Linked DNA regions of Homo sapiens. The protein of the gene in region 1 purifies or fractionates together with the protein of each later gene. This does not show direct contact. Each region holds a gene or a part of one and is shown on either strand. Other genes may lie near its edges.

Region 1 (5,339 bases):
TAAAGAAGAGTCTCACTCTGTCACCCAGGCTGGAGTGCAGTGGCACGATCTTGGCTCACTGCAACCTCCGCCTCCGAAGTTCAGGCAATTCTCCTGCCTCAAGCTCCTTGGTAGCTGGGATTACAGGCACCTGCCACCACGCCCGGCTAATTTTTTGTATTTTTTTAGTAGAGACAGGGTTTCTCCATGTTGGTCAGGCTGGTCTTGAACTCCTGACCTCAAGTGATCTGCCCATCTTGGCCTTCCAAAGTGCTGGGATTACAGGCATGAGCCACCATGCCTGGTGAGGCCCTAACATTTTCTGTAGTTTAGGAGGACAAGAAGAGGAACTGACCCTCTTACTCCTCTGTGTGGAACTTCCTCCTTCTGAGCCTCAGTTTTGCCATCTCTCAAGTGGGGCAATCCAACTGTCAGAAATGAGATTTTTGACCTCAGAATACATCTGCAAGGGTTTAGTAGACCCTAGAGGGTTTTGTATCAAAGTGGTTTTCTTTTTTTTTTTTAACTACATAATAGTCAATCAAAGTGTTTCTATGAGCACCAAAATGTTTTATAAACCAAGAAGGGTTTTTAATTCTAAGTGCTTGGAAAGCTTCACCCTCATAAACCCCAAATTGTGTTTTTGTCTCAAAGTAAGTGCTCTGCAAACTTCAGAGTATTTTTCAATCTATCCCAAAGTGGTTGGTAAACCTCTCCATTATAAACTCCAAAATGTTTTTGTTGTTATTGTGGTTTTGATTTTTGGGGTTTTTTTTGTTTGTTTTTTTGGTTTTTTTTTTTGAGAATGGAGTCTTGCTCTGTTATCCAGGCTGGAGTACAGTGGCACAATCTCAGCTCACTGCAACCTCCAACTCCCAGACTCAAATGATCCTCCCACCTCAGCCTCCGGAATAGCTGGAACTACAGGCGCGGACCACCACACCCAGCTAATTTTTCTATTTTTAGTAGAGACGGGGTTTCGCCATGTTTCCCAGGCTGGTCTCGAACTCCTGAGCTCAGGCAATCCGCCCGCCTCTGCCTCCCAAAGTACTAGGATTATAGACATGAGCCACCACACCTGGCCCAAAATGTGATTTTCTTCTTCTTTTTTTGTTTTTTTTGAGATGGAGTTTCGCTCTGTTGCCCAGGCTAGAGTGCAATGGCACAATCTCAGCTCACTGCAACCTCCGCCACTGAGGTTCAAGTGATTCTCCAGCCCTAGCCTCCCAAGTAGATGGGACTACAAGTACGTGCCACCACGTCCAGCTAATTTTTGAATTTTTAGTGTAGACAGGGTTTCGCCATGTTGGCCATGTTGGCCAGGCTGGTCTCGAACTCCTGACCTCAGCTGATCCACCTGCCTCGGCCTCCCAAAGTGCTGGGATTATAGGCATGAGCTACTGCGCCTGGCCCAAAATGTGATTTTTAATACCAAAGAGCTGTATGAATGCTAAATGCGTTGTGTATTTCACCTTTGGTAAACTTTTTTTTTTTTTTTTTTGGAGACGAAGTCTCGCTCGTCCCCCAGGCTGGAGTGCAATGGTGCGATCTCAGCTCACTGCAACCTCCATCTCCCAGGTTCAAGTGATTCTCCTGCCTCAGCCTCCTGTGTAGCTGGGATTACAGGTGACTGCCACCACACCTGACTAATTTTTCTATTTTTAGAGAGACAAGGTTTCATCATGTTGGCCAGACTGCTCTTGAACTCCTGACCTCAGGTGATCCAACTGCCTTGGCCTCCCAAGGTGCTGGGATTATAGGCGTGAGCCACCATGCCTGGCCAGGCCACCTTTGGTAAACTTCTACAAGTGATTCTAATTATGAAGTGCTTTGCAAAATCAGGGTATTTTTAATCCTGAAAAGTTTTAAGAAACCCAAAGAGCTTGATACATCCATATGATACCCACGTACACCCATGCAATATCTTCATTTTAAAAATGTTTATTTAAAATTTTATTTTAAAAATTTCAGGACAGGCACAGTGGCTTACACCTATAATCCTAGCAATTTGGGAGGCTGAGGCAGGAGGATGACTTGAGCCCACGAGTTTGAGATCACCCTGGGCAATAGAGGGAGTCTTCATCTCTACAAAAAAATTTAAAAAGTAGGCCAGGCATGCTGGCTTACGCCTGTAATCCTAGCAATTTGGGAGGCCAAGGCAGGCAGATTGCCTGAGCTCAGGAGTTCGAGACCAGCCTGGGCAACACGGTGAAACCCTGTCTCTACTAAAATACGAAAAATTAGCCGGGCATGGCAGCCTGCACCTGTAGTCCCAGCTACTCTGGAGGCTGAGGTAAAAGAATTGTTTGAACCCGGGAGGCAGAGGTTGCAGTGAGCCAAGATCATGTCACTGCACTCCAGCCTGGGGGACAGAGTGAGACTCTGTCTCCAAAAAAAAAAAAAAAATCAAAAAAGTAGCCAGGTGTGGTGGTGTGTGCTGTGGTTCCAGCTACCCAGAAGCCTGAGGTGGGAGGATTGTTTGAGACGAGGAGGTTGAGTCTAAAGTGGGCCCAGATCATGCCACTGCACTCTAGCCTGGGCAACAGAGTGAGACTCTGTCTCAAAAAATAAATAAATAAATAAATAAATAAAATTTCAAGACTACAGAAAAGTTTTTTTTAAAAAACATACTTTATTATTTTGGAAATGGAGTCTCCCTCTGTCACCCAGACTGGAGTGTAGTGGTGCCATCTTGGCTCACAGCAACCTCCACCTTCTAGGTTGTGGAAAGTAAAAAAGTTTCTCTTTAAAGTTTTTATTAAATAATAAATCACAAGTGTTAGAAATAATATTTTTAATTAACTTTTTTTAAGCCTCTTTGCTTTGTGTTAGTAACTCTTTTTTAAACCATATCTTATGTAGTTGTTAGATATAAGGAAATAAGTACCTTCTGTGTCCTTGTACGTTAACCAAGATATTTGGTCTCGACGTGCTCAAGCATGTCCCAGCTCACAGCTTATGCCCTTTCCTTATTTGGAAATGTTATTACTTCTCCAAGTCTTTTGGCAAGCAACTTCCTCTTTTCCTTTGTTCTCCATTGCCTTTACCTATTTAAGAAAGTTTTTTAAGTTGTTAGCCAATTGGGTTTAGCTTAGACTGTGAGGTCCAGCTCCAACCAATGGAGACAGGACACAGCAGTAAGGACCCAATGCATAAGGGATAAATATTCCTGCCTTTCTTTGTTCATTGTGCTCTCCTGGCAGGATTGCTGATGGGCAGCACCCTTTCTACAGAAAGTAAAATTGCCTTGCTGAGAAAACTTTTTGTCTGAATGCTAATTTTTCCTTGCGACACCAAGAAACAAGCATTTTGATTCTAACACAGGTTCAAGTGATTCTCCTGCCTCAGCCTCCCAAAGAGCAGGGATAACAGGCACGCACTACAATATCCAGCTAATTTTTTTTTGTTTGTTTTTTGTTTTTTGTATTTTTAGTAGCGATGAGGTTTTGCTATGTTGGCCAGGCTGGTCTTGAATTCCTGACTTTGGGTGATCCACCCACCTCGGCCTCCCAAAGTGCTGGGATTACAGGCAAGAGAAGTTTTTCTTAAAATAGTACAACAGATTTTAGGCTCTTCTGTATCTGCCCACCGAGCTACTCTGTTCCTGGCTTAGAGAACCAGGAGAAGGGGAAGGGGAATCACCTGCCACATGCTGGAGGTTGGAGCCTGTGGCACCATGGCTTGCCTCACTGCAGTTGGTGGTGGCAACAGAGGCTGCAGTGTGGCCAGAGTGGCTTTTCTGGCTTTGCCCGCCCAGCCACTCTGAGAAAGGCTGGAGGAGAAAGTGAAGGAGGAGTCACCTGTGGTGAGGTGGAGTTTGGAGCTTGCAGATGGCACGGCTCTGTGGCTCACCTCCTACAGTTGTGGCGGTGACAGCGAGGGAGACTTCAGCCTGACTGGAGTAGAAGGGTGCTCGTGAAGGCTAGAGTATTGCCTCCAAGATGCAGCAGTGGATACTCAGGTTTCAGGAGACTCCACTGTCCATGGCGAATCCATGGTCTGCCAGCGCAGTTTTAGAGAGAGAATGTGCCACCGCAGGTGTCATCCTCATGTGCACCCTGGCAGGTAGCCATCTGAAGATTTCAAGGACAACCTGGCAGGGGAGCAGACCAGCGACACTTCCTCTGAACAGGTTCTTGCTGTTCACTTGACAGACTCAGCAACTCAGGCAAGTGTTCACATGGAAGATATCCTGGAAGGATACCAAGCCAGTGAAAGCTCAGATGAAAATGCCCCATGGCTTTGGAAGGCCAATGAATGTGCCAAGGAAAAAGGTGCCATGGAGGATCCTCTGGAAGACCTCGCCAATGAAATTTCAGATTAGGACACCCCACTGGATTTGAAGGCCAAAGAACGTGCCAAGGAAAAAGTTCCCATGGAGGATACCCTGGTGGAAGACCTTGGAAACGAAAGCTCAGATAAGGATGCCTCACTGGACTTGAAGGTTGACAAACGCATGAAAGAAAAAGTTCCCACAGAGGATACCCTGGTGAAAGACCTTGCCAATGAAAGCTCAGATGAGGACGCTCTACTGGATTGAAGGCTGATGAATTCACCAAGGAAAAGTTCCCACGGAGGATACCCTGGTGGAAGACCTTGCCAACAAAAGCTCAGATGGGGATGTTTTGCTAAATTTAAAGGCTGACAAATGAGCCAAGGAAAAAGTTCCCATGGAGGATACCCTGGTGGAAGACCTCACCAACGAAAGCTCACATGAGGATGCTCCACTGGATCTGAATGCCGACAAATGTGCCAAGGAAAAAGTTCCCATAGATAATCCAGTGAAAGAATTTGCCAACAACATCAAGGAAAAGGAGGCCCCATGTAATGTGAAGGCACCCTAGGGAGTCCAGGTAAATGATTTCAAGGATGACCTGGCGGGGATGGTGATCAGTGAAAAGTCCCCAGAAGCAGCCCTATCTCTTCACAGGGCAAAATGAGATGCCAAGAAAAAAGATTGCTTCGCCATTCTTGTAGCAGAGCTTCCTGAAGAGATGTCCTCAGGGCAAGTGCTGGCCGTTGTCACCGTGAAAGGCATCAAGAAAAATGGTGGCTCTGAGGACAGCTTTTCTAAAACCAGTAATGACAAAGACTCTTCCTGTAGTGGAGACACTCAAGCTTCTGGAGCAGATATGGAAGAGTCCAATCATGCAGATGACCATCAGCATATGCCAACAAGTACTCTCCCAGCACCTGCAGAAAAAACAATAGAGACAAAGCCTGAAAAGGCAGAAGAAATGTAACCCAGTGAGTTCAAGGAGGATGAGGATGCTGAAGAGCCTGACCTGACCTGTTGTGACCTTTGTTTTTTATGCTAGAAGTCCCTACAGATTTTTTGAACACCTGGAAGGGCCGGGTCA
Region 2 (3,828 bases), 450 kb from region 1:
CCCAGTTGAAGGAGGTGTGGGAGGAGCTGGATGGACTGGACCCCAACAGGTTTAACCCCAAGACCTTCTTCATACTGCATGGTAAGGTGGGGAGGGAGTTCCAGAGCCAGGATGAACCCTAGATTCTGACCCTTCTAGGACCTGAATGCTAAGAGGGGTGTGTCTGTCCCAGGAGGGCTTAGTCAGGCCCAAGAGCCAAGCCTATGTCCCCTGGTTGACCAGACAGCCCTGCCTCTCCCGACTACAAGGCTAGGATCTGCATGGAAGGGTTGGGCCTCTTTTCTAGCAAACACCAGACCTCGGGGTTCTAAGGACAGCTGGTGTCCTCTGTAAGCAAACCAGGCTTGGCTAGGCCTGGGCCCTCTGCCCACAGCAGCCCAGGAGAAGCCCTGGTCCACTCTGGGAACCCTGTCGCTAGGAGTGGGTTGTTCCCTAAGAACCAGGCCTCCAGAAGCCTGGAAAACCCTTTCTCTTTTTCTTTTTCCTTTTTTTTTTTTTTTTTGAGATGGAGTCTTGCTCTGTTGCCCAGGCTGGAGTGCAGTGGCATGACCTCGGCTCACTGCAACCCCCTGCCCTCCGCCTCCCGGGTTCAAGTGATTCTCCTGCCTCAGCCTCCCGAGTAGCTGGGATTACAGGCATGCACCACCATGCCCGGCTAACTTTTGTATTTTTAGTAGAGATGGGGTTTCACCATGTTGGCCAGGCTGGTCTCGAACTCCCAACCTCGTGTGATCTGCCCCCTCAGCATCCCAAAGTGCTAGGATTACAGGCGTGAGTCACTGCGCCCGGCCTCGAAAGCCCTTTCTCTATGGTGGATCAAAGGCACACTCCCCTCAGTCTGTCTCTTCCTGTCTGGAAATGTGGCCTGGGGTTGCCAAGCCCCCTCAGGTATGCCAAGCACCCTGTCCCAGAATCTGTAGCCGGTCAGATAAGCTTAGCAAGGCCTGACTCATTCATTCAGCAAACCTTTCCTAAGTTCCCTCTAAGGACCAAGCTTTGTCAAGACCCCGTGGATACAACTGTAAACAAAACAAAGTACCTCCCCCTCAGAGCCAGTGATCAGGCACACAGATCATACCATACTTTAGTAACTCCACGAGACTGTACAGTATGAGAGGTGCTAGCATTTTACGTAAGCTGCCAATTAAATTAACGTACCATTGAAAACAAGATGCGTCCTGGGCTGGGTGTAGTGGCTCATGTCTGTAATCCCAGCACTTTGGTAGGCCAAGGTGGAAGATGGCTTGAGCCCAGGAATTTAAGACCAGCCTGGACAACAAAGTGAGACCCTGTCTCTATTTAAAAAAAAAAAATAGACCAGGCGTGGTGGCTCACGCCTATAATCCCAGCATTTTGGGAGGTTGAGGTGGGAGGATCACCTGAGGTCAGGAGTTCAAGACCAGCCTGGCCAACATGGTGAAACCCCATCTCCACAAAAATACCAAAATTAGCTGGGCATGATCGTGAGTGCCTGTAATCCCAGCTACTCAGGAGGCTGAGGTGGGAGAATCACTTGAACCCGGGAGGCAGAGTTTGCAGTGAGCCAAGATCGTGCCATTGCACTGCAGCCTGGGTGACAGAGCAACACTCCATCTCAAAAAAACAAAGAAAAAAATAAAAATTAAAAGTTAAATAAATAAAGATACATCCCTATTTCAGGGGTGATAAAATAGAAGAACACAAAAGTGCATCTCAGAATCAACGAAGGTTCTAGGCCGGGTGTGGTGGCTCACGCCTGTAATCCCAACACTTTGGGAGGCCTAGGCGGGTGGGTCCCTTGAGGCCAGGAGTTGGAGACCAGCCTGGCCAACATGGCAAAACCCAGTCTCTACTAAAAATACAAAAATTAAAAAACAAAACAAAAATTAGCCAGGCATGGTAGTGCTCACCTATAGTCCCAGCTACTCAGGAGGCTGAGGTAGGAGAATCGCTTGAACCCGGGAGGCGGAAGGCGGGGGTTGCAATGAGCTGAGATCACACCACTGCACTCCAGCCTGGGCAACAGAGTGAGACTCTGTCTCAAAAAGCAATAGAAAGTAAAAAAGAATTAGAAGATTCTGTAATGGGGTCTCAGGTAGTGACGTGTACTACCTCGCAGCCTTGACCACCCAGGTTCAAGTGATCCTCCCCCTCAGCCTCCCAAGTATCTGGGACCACAGGCACGTACCACTATGCCTGGCTAATTTTTTTAATTTTTAGTAAAGGCAAGGTTTTACCATGTTGCCCAGGCTGGTCTCAAACTCCTTTGCTCAAGCGATCCACCTATCTTGGCCTCCCGAAGTGCTGGGGTTACAAGCATGAGCCATCCCACCGGGCACCACCCCCCGTGTTTTGTTTTGTTTTTTTTTTGAGACAGGATCTTGCTATGTTGCCCAGGCTGGAGTCAAACTCCAGGCCTCAAACAATCCTCCTGCCTCAGTCACCTGAGTAGCTGAGACTGCAGGTGTGTGCCACTGCGCCCAGCTTTAAAGATGTTTAATTGTACAGTTCAATAGTATTAAGTATATTTACACTGTCATGCAACCAATTCTGAGAGCTCTTCATCTCGCACAACCGAAACCGTATCCATTAAACCACTCGCCCTCCCCTTCTTTCCCCTGCTCTCTAGCAACCACCATTCTATTTTCTGTCTCTATGATTTTGACTATTTTAGGTACTTCATGCAAGTAGAATCTTTTGGTATTTGTCGTGTGTGTGTGTGTGTGTGTGTGTGTGTTTGGCTTATTTCACTTAGCATAATGGTGAGGAACTGAAGTTTTCATTCTACTGGATATTAATTTCTATTTCAATTGCCCCATGTGGCTAGTGGCTGCTGTACTGGAGTCCCAGCACAGCTCTAGAGAGGACATTTGGGCTGGATGCGGTGGCTCACGCCTGTAATCCCAGCACTTTGGGAGGCCGAGGTGGGTGGATCCCTTGAGTCCAGGAGTTCAAGGCCAGCCTGGGCAACATGGCACAAACCCATCTCTACAAATAAAATACAAAAATTAGCTGGGTGTGGTGGCGTGCATCTGTAGTCCCAGCTCCTTGGGAGGCAGAGGTGGGAGGATCACTTGAGTCCAGGAATTCAAGGCTGCAGTGAGCTATGATCATACCAGTGCCCTCCAGCCTGGGCAACAGAGTGAAACCCTGTCTCTAAAAAATAGAAAATAGGCTGGGCTCAGTGGCTCACGCCTGTAGTCCCAGCACTTTCGGAGGCCAAGGCAGGCAGATCAGGAGCTCAAGAGATCGAGACCATCCTGGCCAACATAGTGAAACCCCGTCTCTACTAAAAATACAAAAATTATCTGGGCATGGTGGCACGCACCTGCAGTCCCAGCTACTCAGGAGGCTGAGGCAGGAGAATCACTTAAACCCTGGAGGTGGAGGTTGCAGTGAGCTGAGATCATGCCACTGCACTCCAGCCTGGCAACAGAGCGAGACTCTGTCTCAAAAATAAATAAACAAATAAATAGGCCCGGCGCAGTGGCTTACCCCTATAATCCCAGCACTTTGCGAAGCCAAGGCGGCTGGATCCCTTGAGACCAGGAGTTCAAGACCAGCCTGGGCAACATGGCAAAACCCCATCTCTATGAAAACAAATACAAAAATTAGCTGGGTGTGGTGGCGTGCATCTGTAGTCCCAGCTACTTGGGAGGCTGAGGTGGGAGGATCACTTGAGCCGAGGAGTTCAAGGCTTCAGTGAGCTACGATCACACCATTGCACTCCAGCCTGGGTGACAGAGTGAGACCCTGTCTCTAAAAAATAAAAAAATAAAAACCTTATTTAATCTTTTTAATCAGGCAGTCCCTACAGACCAGAATAGGTTCAGAGCAACTCCCTATACC
Region 3 (3,828 bases), on another chromosome or scaffold:
TCAGCCTCTTAGGTTGAAGCGATTCTCCTGCCTCAGCCTTCCCAGTAGTTGGGATTACAGGCTTGCGCCACCACACCTGGCTGATTTTTGTATTTTTAGTAGAGACAGGGTTTCACCATGTTGGCCAGGCTGGTCTTGAACTCCTGACCTCGTGATCCTCCTGCCTCGGCCTCCCAAAGTGCTGGGATTACTGGTGTGAGCCACCACGCCCGGCCTATAAATTGTTTTTGTTTTTTTGAGATGGAGTTTCACTTTTGTTGCTCAAGCTGGAGTACAATGGCGTGGTCTTGGCTCACTGCAACCTCCACCTCCCGGGTTCAAGCGATTCTCCTGCCTCAGCCTCCTGAGTAGCTGGGATTACAGGCATGCGCCACCACGCCTGGCTAATTTTTTGCATTTTTAGTAGAAATGGGGTTTCTCCATGCCAGCCAGGTTGGTTTCTAATTCCTGACCTCAGGTGATCTGCCTGCCTCGGCCTCCCAAAGTGCTGGGATTACAGGTGTAAGCCACCATGCCCAGTCAAAATTGTTTTTTAATTTTTTTTTAAAGACACAGGATCTCGCTCTGTTGCCCAAGCTGCAGTGCAGTGGTGCAATCATAGCTCACTGCAGCCTCGATCTCCTGGGTGTCCTGGGGTCAAGCCTCAAGTGATCCTCCTGAGTAGCTAGGACCATAAGCACGTGCTACCACACCTGGCTAATTTAAAAAAATTTTTTGTAGGCCAGGCATGGTGGCTCATGACTATAATCCCACCATTTTAGGAGGCCGAGTTGGAGGACTGTTTAAGCCCAGGAGTTCAAGGCCAGCTTGAGTAGCACAGTGGGACTCTATCTCTACAAAAAATTTAAAAATTAGCCAGGCGTGGTGGTATGCACCTGTAGTCCCAGCTACTTGGTGGGGCACTGAGGCAGAAGGACTGCTTGAGCCCAGGAGTTCAAGGGTGCAGTGAGCTGTGTTTGTGACACAATACTCCAGCCTGGGTGACAGAGCAAACATGTGTCAAAATAATTTTTTTAAATAGAGATGGGGAGTCTTACTTTGTTGCCCAGTCTGGTCTTGAACTCTTGGCCTCAAGAGATCCTCCTGTCTCGGCCTTCTAAAGTGCTAAGACTATAGGTTATACACTTTTTTCCCCCCGGACACGGTTTCTCTGTTGCCCAGGCTGTCGTGCAGTGGTGGGATCTTGGCTCACTGCAACCTCTGCCTCCCGGGTTCAAGTGATTCTCCTGCCTCAGCCTTCCGAGTAGCTGGGATTATGGGCACCTGCCAGCATGCCCAGCTAATTTTTGTATTTTTAGTAGAGACGGGGTTTCACCATGTTGGCCAGGCTGGTCTTGAACTCCTGACCTCAGGTGATCCACCCACCTCAACCTCCTAAAATGCTGAGATTATAGGTATGAGCCACTGCGCCCAGCCTTAGATTATAAACTTATTTTTTTTTAAATAGCGACAAGGGCTTGCTATGTTGCCCAGGCTGGTTTTGAACTCCTGAACTCAAGCAATCCTCCTCCCTTGGCCTCCCAAAGTGCTGGGATTATAGACATAAGCCACCACACCCAGCCTTAGGTTATAAACTCTTTAAAGCAAAAACAAAGAGAGGGTCGAGGTGGGAAATTATAAAAACCAGTTTAGACATCCACAGAAGTCCAATTAAATAAGGACTGAAAAGCAATCATTGGATTTAGATGTTAGGATCACATTAGTGATAGGAGCAAGAGCAGTTTCAGCGCAGTATGTTGTCATCATAAATGCACAGAATGTTAATCTGTAATATCCTACTGGATTAAGTAGATTATCTGTCTTACCTGTTTTAACTTCAGTTTTACATCTTCAAGGCCACCAATCTCCTCCCAGTCAACAGGCTTGATATCCATTAATCCAATGACGCTTCGAAACGATGAGGGCTGAATATTTTTAAAAGCTTCAAGGAAGTCTATTTCATCAATCACAGGATTGTCCTGGTTCTGAAGAAATACACCCAAAAAAGCAAAATCAAACCAAAAATTAGGTTGGTCTTTTTTTATAGCACAATTTGTTTTTAAAATCTTCTTTTGGATTTGTAAAGTTATTTTGTTATCATTATAAAAACAATTTATATACATAGTACAAAGAATTAAATGTCTCCCTGCCAATTCCTGCCAGTAATTCTTCCCCGAAAGATGTCAAGAGTTTGTGTATTTTTCCAGTATGTTATGCTAGTAAGCATACATATATCCTTTTAAACAGATACACAAATGGAACCATACTATATCAGCCTGTACTTTTCTTCTTTCACCTATCTTAGAGAGCTTTTCATGTCAACTAACACAGTTCTACGTCATTCTTTTTGACAATTCCATAATACACTACTGAATTTACCCCAACTACACCTTTCTGACAAACGTTAGGTCATCCCCAGTCTTTAGATATTAAAAACAAAGCTGCAACTGAAAAAGTCTTTGTGCTCATGTTCAAGTATTTGTTTATTTTGAGACAGGGTCTCACTCTGTTACCCAGGCTGGAATGCAGTGATGTTATCATAGCTCACTGCAGTCTCCCAGGCTCAAGTAATCCTTGCACCTCACCCTCCGGAGTAGCTAGAACTACAGGTATGTGCCACCAGCCTGGCTAATTAAAAAAATATATATATTTTTTTTTTGTAGAGATGCGGTCTCCCTATGTTGCCCAGGCTGGTCTGGAACTCATGGGCTCGAGCGATCCTCCCACCTCAGCCTCCCAAAGTGCTGGGATTACAGGCATGAGCCACCATGTTCAAACTCATGTTCAAGTATTTTATGTAATAATTTCCTCAAAGTAGAATTACTGGGTTTACAAGTACACACATATACAATTTTGACAGCTATTACCAAATTGTCCTCTAAGGAAGCTGCAACAATTTATTCTTCTCCGATAATATGAAGCTGTGTTCTCTCCACACCTCTCCAGTACAGACATTATCAAACTCTTTTTTTTTTTTTTTTTGGCGGGGTCTCACTCTGTCACCCAGGTTGGAGTGCAGTGCTGTGATCTTGGCTCCCTGCAGCCTCCGCCTCCTGGGTTCAAATGATTCTCGTGCCTCAGCCTACCGAGTAGCTGGGATTTATAGGCATGAGCCACCACACCTGACTAATTTTTGTATTTTTAGCAGAGACGGGGTTTCCCCATGTTGGCCAGGCTGGTCTTGAACTCCTGACCTCAACTGACCCACCCATCTCAGCCTCCCAAAGTGCTGGGATTATAGGTGTGAGCCACCGCACGTGGCCCATTTCCAAACTCTTAAATGTCTGCCAATATGACAGGAAGAACCAGTACTCATTCATTACTGTGTTAACTAAATTTCTTCAATTCAAAATGAGGTAGAGGGAATATTGGAATTAAAAAAATCGCCCGTCTTGCAATCATGATAGTAAAGGCTGTTATGAGCAAGAATTGGATGCTATGTTGAGGGGAGTAAAAGTTTATTCATTTATGAGACAGGGTCTTGCTCTGCTGCCCAGGCTGGAGTGCAGTGGCATTGAGGCAACAGCTCATTGAGCCTCGAACACCTGGGCTCAAGTGATCATTCTATCTCAGCCTCCTGAGCAGCTGGGACTACAGGTGTAAGCCACTGTGCCCAGCCTGAAAGTTTGATGAGGAGCAGGATATCTCAAAGTGTCTCCCCACAGATTTCTCATTAGTGGCAAAGGGAAAAATAGCAGTTCCACAGTGGAGAAACTGCGCACTGCCTGAACTAGTTGATAAAAGTTAGCATCACCAATGAGGAACCAATGTACACTCTGTGCCTCTACATGTGAGGCTCTAAGGACACAACACTATACATCACCATACTGTGGTGACATATGGGAACAT
Region 4 (3,828 bases), on another chromosome or scaffold:
TGGGGCTGTCTGGTGATTCTGTAGATCAATTCTGTAGGCCCACTGTCCTGGTCAGTGGCAGACAGCTGCAGGGTGGTGATTTTCTTCACTGAGTTTTCATCCAAGACCAGTCCTTTATTGGTGGTGATGACTGGTGGGGATTTGTCTTCTGAAAATATCAGAAATAGTGATTTGAAATGGGATCTTCTCAGCCTCCTTTCTTTAATTCTAGGCCTGGTGCCAAGAAGTAAGGTCAGAGTCATCTCTAGGCCTGTGTGTTAGAGAGCACACCAAGGAGCCAGGGCTTCGTGCAATAAAGGGGGTATGATTTTCAGTTTCCACACCAGCTAGGTAAAGGGAAGGACTCGAGCCTCGAGGTGAACAAAGTGTAAACTATATAACCTCAGAACTGCTAAAATAGTTTTATATTAGAAAATCAAATGTCTCTTTACCTAGAATGCTGATGGAAAATGACTTGTCAATCAATCTGTTGCCTTCTCCATCAACCACATCAAATTTAAAAGCAAAGCTCCCTCCAGGTTCTCCTGTTCCATGACTATATTCTACGTGGCCTATAAAAAGGAAAAAAAATCAAGATTTGCTATTAGTGCTTTCTGCCCTTATTTCTGAAGCAAGAGGTGTGAATTCAATTGGTGTTCACACCAATGAATCAGTTCACACCTTCCTCGCTTTGACACTGCTTTTGACATTTTAATCTAAAGTTTTCATTTCCTCCTTTTCCTCTCCCACCATCTACTTTCTCATAACCAAAGACCTTCTCATAACAAAATCACCCCAAGTGACATTTCTCATGGTTAAGGCTGAGCCTTTTTGGAAGATCAGCTCAGCCTCTAAGGACACCTCATGAAAACGAGATCCACAAAACTGCCCATGTGTAAATGTGCACTGACCACACCCACATCACCTGGAGTGACCCTATTATATATTGGAATCACAAGGGCAAGAAGACACAGAGCTGCACCTCACATTCTCCCAGAACTCTTCACTTTTCATTGCCCAGTTCACGGAGCAACATGGGCTATAGCCAACCAACAAATAAACTCCACATAGAACTCAAAAGGATCTAAAAGGAGAAGTACAACAAAAATGTATTACATTTTTGTTAACCTACAGCATCACTTAAAAGCATCTTTCAATTTGGTTGTGTAAATATAACCAAATCTCTGGGAAGAGGGGGCTGGTCTTATCTTTTAAAAGTAGACACCGACATATGAAATAATTAAGGAATTACTTTCCTTTTGCCTCTTCCACTCCCCTTCACTAAAGCACAGCCAGTTCCAATGAGAATTCAGCTGTTGTCAATTTTAGGTGTTAGTGTGTGGGCGGGACACTTGTTTTTTATCCGCAGGGGTATATTTCCACTTCTAAACAGAATTGCACATAATCACAAGACTGTGGATTACGTTTTCCCCAATATATAACTTTTTTTCCCTTTTGTATCCCTGAAAGCACTGTACAGTAACTACGTAGCATTTAACATTTATGCCTTTACATTACATCAGCATTTCCTGATGGAGGGATGTGCCATGTAATTTCCCCTAGGCAGCTCCGATTTATGCCCTTCCATTTTGCTTAGTTCATTAACTTGTGCTCTTTGGGGAGCTGAAAAGAGATATAAATTGCTCACCTAAGGAAGGCATAATTTTCACCTTAATCCATCCCAACTCACTTCTTTTTTCCTTCTCTCTCTCTCATATATACTTTTTAGCATCACAGCAAGTCAAAATAACTTTTTCTCTCCAAAATAGCTGCAAATGCCACCAATGCTAAGTCAAAGCATGAACACATTTCAACCAAGAAAGATAGGGCTTTTTTAAAAACAAAAAGAAAAAAAAAATAAGAAAACAAGGAAGAGAACAAATGAAGCTCCTCAAAACAAAGAGTGCACAGTTTATTGCCATAGACTACCAGATATTTAATTCTCATTTTACTAGTGTAGGTGCAGTCCACGGAAGCCTGGTAGGCAGAAGAGAACTGGCTGACCTTGGCTAATGTCTGCCTGGGTGAAACTTCGGATGGGGCCTTTAATAGAAATTTGCTCCAGGTTGCCATGCTTCATCATCTGCAGGCGCCCTGCACCAGGATCTTCCTTCATGATGTACATAACCTGATGGTCATCTGAGTCAATATCTGTCACTTTCAAGTGCTGTTCTGTGATGCGTGCTACAGACCCTTGGAAGAGAACGGAAGAGAGTAGGTTATTCCCCAACATTTCCTTTGAACGGGATGTCAAATGATTTTAGGAGACTGGAGGCTAAATTATCACATATTCATTGGATCTAGGTACCAGGCACTTGCCCTTCTCAGTTTCCAGCTGAATAAATTATAATTTCCCTAGTGAAAGAGTACCGACATTTCAATTTACTAATTTTCCCTTGAGTCAACACCTAAGCACTTTTTTCCTTCTGATCCATTTTCATTCTCTCCTATGCTCCTCCGACTCAGTGACCTACCAGTTAATACCTAGATCTGTGGAATAACTCCCAGTTCTGTGACAAAAATAACTCCTAGATCTATGATGAAACCTGCTTGGATTTAGTTTACTTACTGTCTTGAGAATCACCAAATCAGAAAAATATAGCTTTACATAAACTCAAACATATCTTGTTGCCATGTCAGACAAAGTAGTGAAAATCAGCATCCTTCAGGACAGAGGATGTTAGGAGCAAGGAGATCTGAGCCTCTGGGCCCTGGACACTGCGCAGGTGTTGGGGATGAAGATAAGGCCCTGGCTAATGGCAAACTCCTCTTCTCAGGGTCTTGTCACTTGCTTTATTACCCAGCCGCTTTATCATGTTAAAAATAGTAAATCCCGGTAAAGTAGAGCCTAGTTATTCATGCATAATACATCCTGGTGTTTGGAGTGACATGTTCTTAGTGGGTAATACCAAGAACACAAGACCCTGACCATGCTTTACCCAGGCCGTTTCTCAGAGAGCAACCTTGAGGGATGAGGTAATGTCTTCCTCTCAGACAAAAATAAGACTTGCATTCTGCTGCTGTAACATGGAGAATTCCCCAAGCTCAGTATTCCCCTCTGTGATGCATCCTACTGCACACGAAAGTGTCTGTCTGGGCCCTCTACATCACCCCTATGGGACTGGGATGGCAGAGGGAGCCGATGCAAACCTGCTGATGCCCATGCTGCCTGCTGTGCTATAAGTAACAAGAGTGCCGTATTTCTGATGGAGGAATCTTGTATCTTCTACCAGCATCCATGAAACAGTAACAGGATAGTTTATTAGCTTATAAGTAGGATAAAGTCAAATCTCAGACTTGATATTTAAGACCTTTGAGAACTACCAAGTTTTCCAATACTATTATACCATACATTTTTCACTGCAAAATACACATGAAACTAAGAACAAACAAACAACAGAACTCTAGTAAGATGCAGACACCCTGGGCAAAAGGTCCACTTCTTAATTAAGTAACTTCCTACTGCAAACTGTTCAAGACTCACACTTGTCACAGGTCCTCCAATGTTGCTTAAACATGAGCAAAATTGTGAATGTTAAACCCTAGAATACCATATCTGATAATTCTCAATTATTTGTATAATCACTTTTAATGCATGATGGTTTCCCAGCTTACCCTCCATGCATTTTGTAAAAAAATAAGCGTCTTAAAAATTCTGCTATATTTCGTTATTTGTTTCCATGGGGTTTGTTGAATGGGAGTAATGTTAGAGGAAACCTGGGCCTAGGAGGAGTTGAATAAATTAAGATTTTTGAGGGCCCTGGAAATATTATAAACTCTTCTCAATCTTTTCTCTAATTCACAGACATAAGCATTTGGTCCAAAGAATTTTAGAGGTTCACATTTGTC

Evidence for each region.
Region 2: the proteins of DKKL1 (region 1) and NUCB1 purify together in Homo sapiens (co-immunoprecipitation; 3 studies listed by BioGRID and IntAct, with this or other methods). This does not show direct contact.
Region 3: the proteins of DKKL1 (region 1) and AFG2B purify together in Homo sapiens (affinity purification with mass spectrometry; 2 studies listed by BioGRID and IntAct, with this or other methods). This does not show direct contact.
Region 4: the proteins of DKKL1 (region 1) and FRAS1 purify together in Homo sapiens (co-immunoprecipitation; 3 studies listed by BioGRID and IntAct, with this or other methods). This does not show direct contact.

What each region holds. Positions count from the first base shown.
Region 1 is NC_000019.10:49,365,945-49,371,283, forward strand, and holds part of DKKL1 (dickkopf-like protein 1 isoform 1 precursor), read left to right. Parts: intron 1-2,760; exon of another isoform or gene 2,761-5,199; intron 5,200-5,339. UniProt on the Homo sapiens protein: Involved in fertilization by facilitating sperm penetration of the zona pellucida. May promote spermatocyte apoptosis, thereby limiting sperm production. In adults, may reduce testosterone synthesis in Leydig cells.
Region 2 is NC_000019.10:48,913,484-48,917,311, forward strand, and holds part of NUCB1 (nucleobindin-1 precursor), read left to right. Parts: coding exon 1-81; intron 82-3,828. UniProt on the Homo sapiens protein: Major calcium-binding protein of the Golgi which may have a role in calcium homeostasis. Acts as a non-receptor guanine nucleotide exchange factor which binds to and activates alpha subunits of guanine nucleotide-binding proteins (G proteins).
Region 3 is NC_000015.10:45,408,508-45,412,335, reverse strand, and holds part of AFG2B (ATPase family gene 2 protein homolog B), read right to left. Parts: intron 1,965-3,828; coding exon 1,806-1,964; intron 1-1,805. UniProt on the Homo sapiens protein: ATP-dependent chaperone part of the 55LCC heterohexameric ATPase complex which is chromatin-associated and promotes replisome proteostasis to maintain replication fork progression and genome stability.
Region 4 is NC_000004.12:78,448,495-78,452,322, reverse strand, and holds part of FRAS1 (extracellular matrix organizing protein FRAS1 isoform 1 precursor), read right to left. Parts: intron 2,173-3,828; coding exon 1,984-2,172; intron 552-1,983; coding exon 432-551; intron 149-431; coding exon 1-148. UniProt on the Homo sapiens protein: Involved in extracellular matrix organization. Required for the regulation of epidermal-basement membrane adhesion responsible for proper organogenesis during embryonic development. Involved in brain organization and function.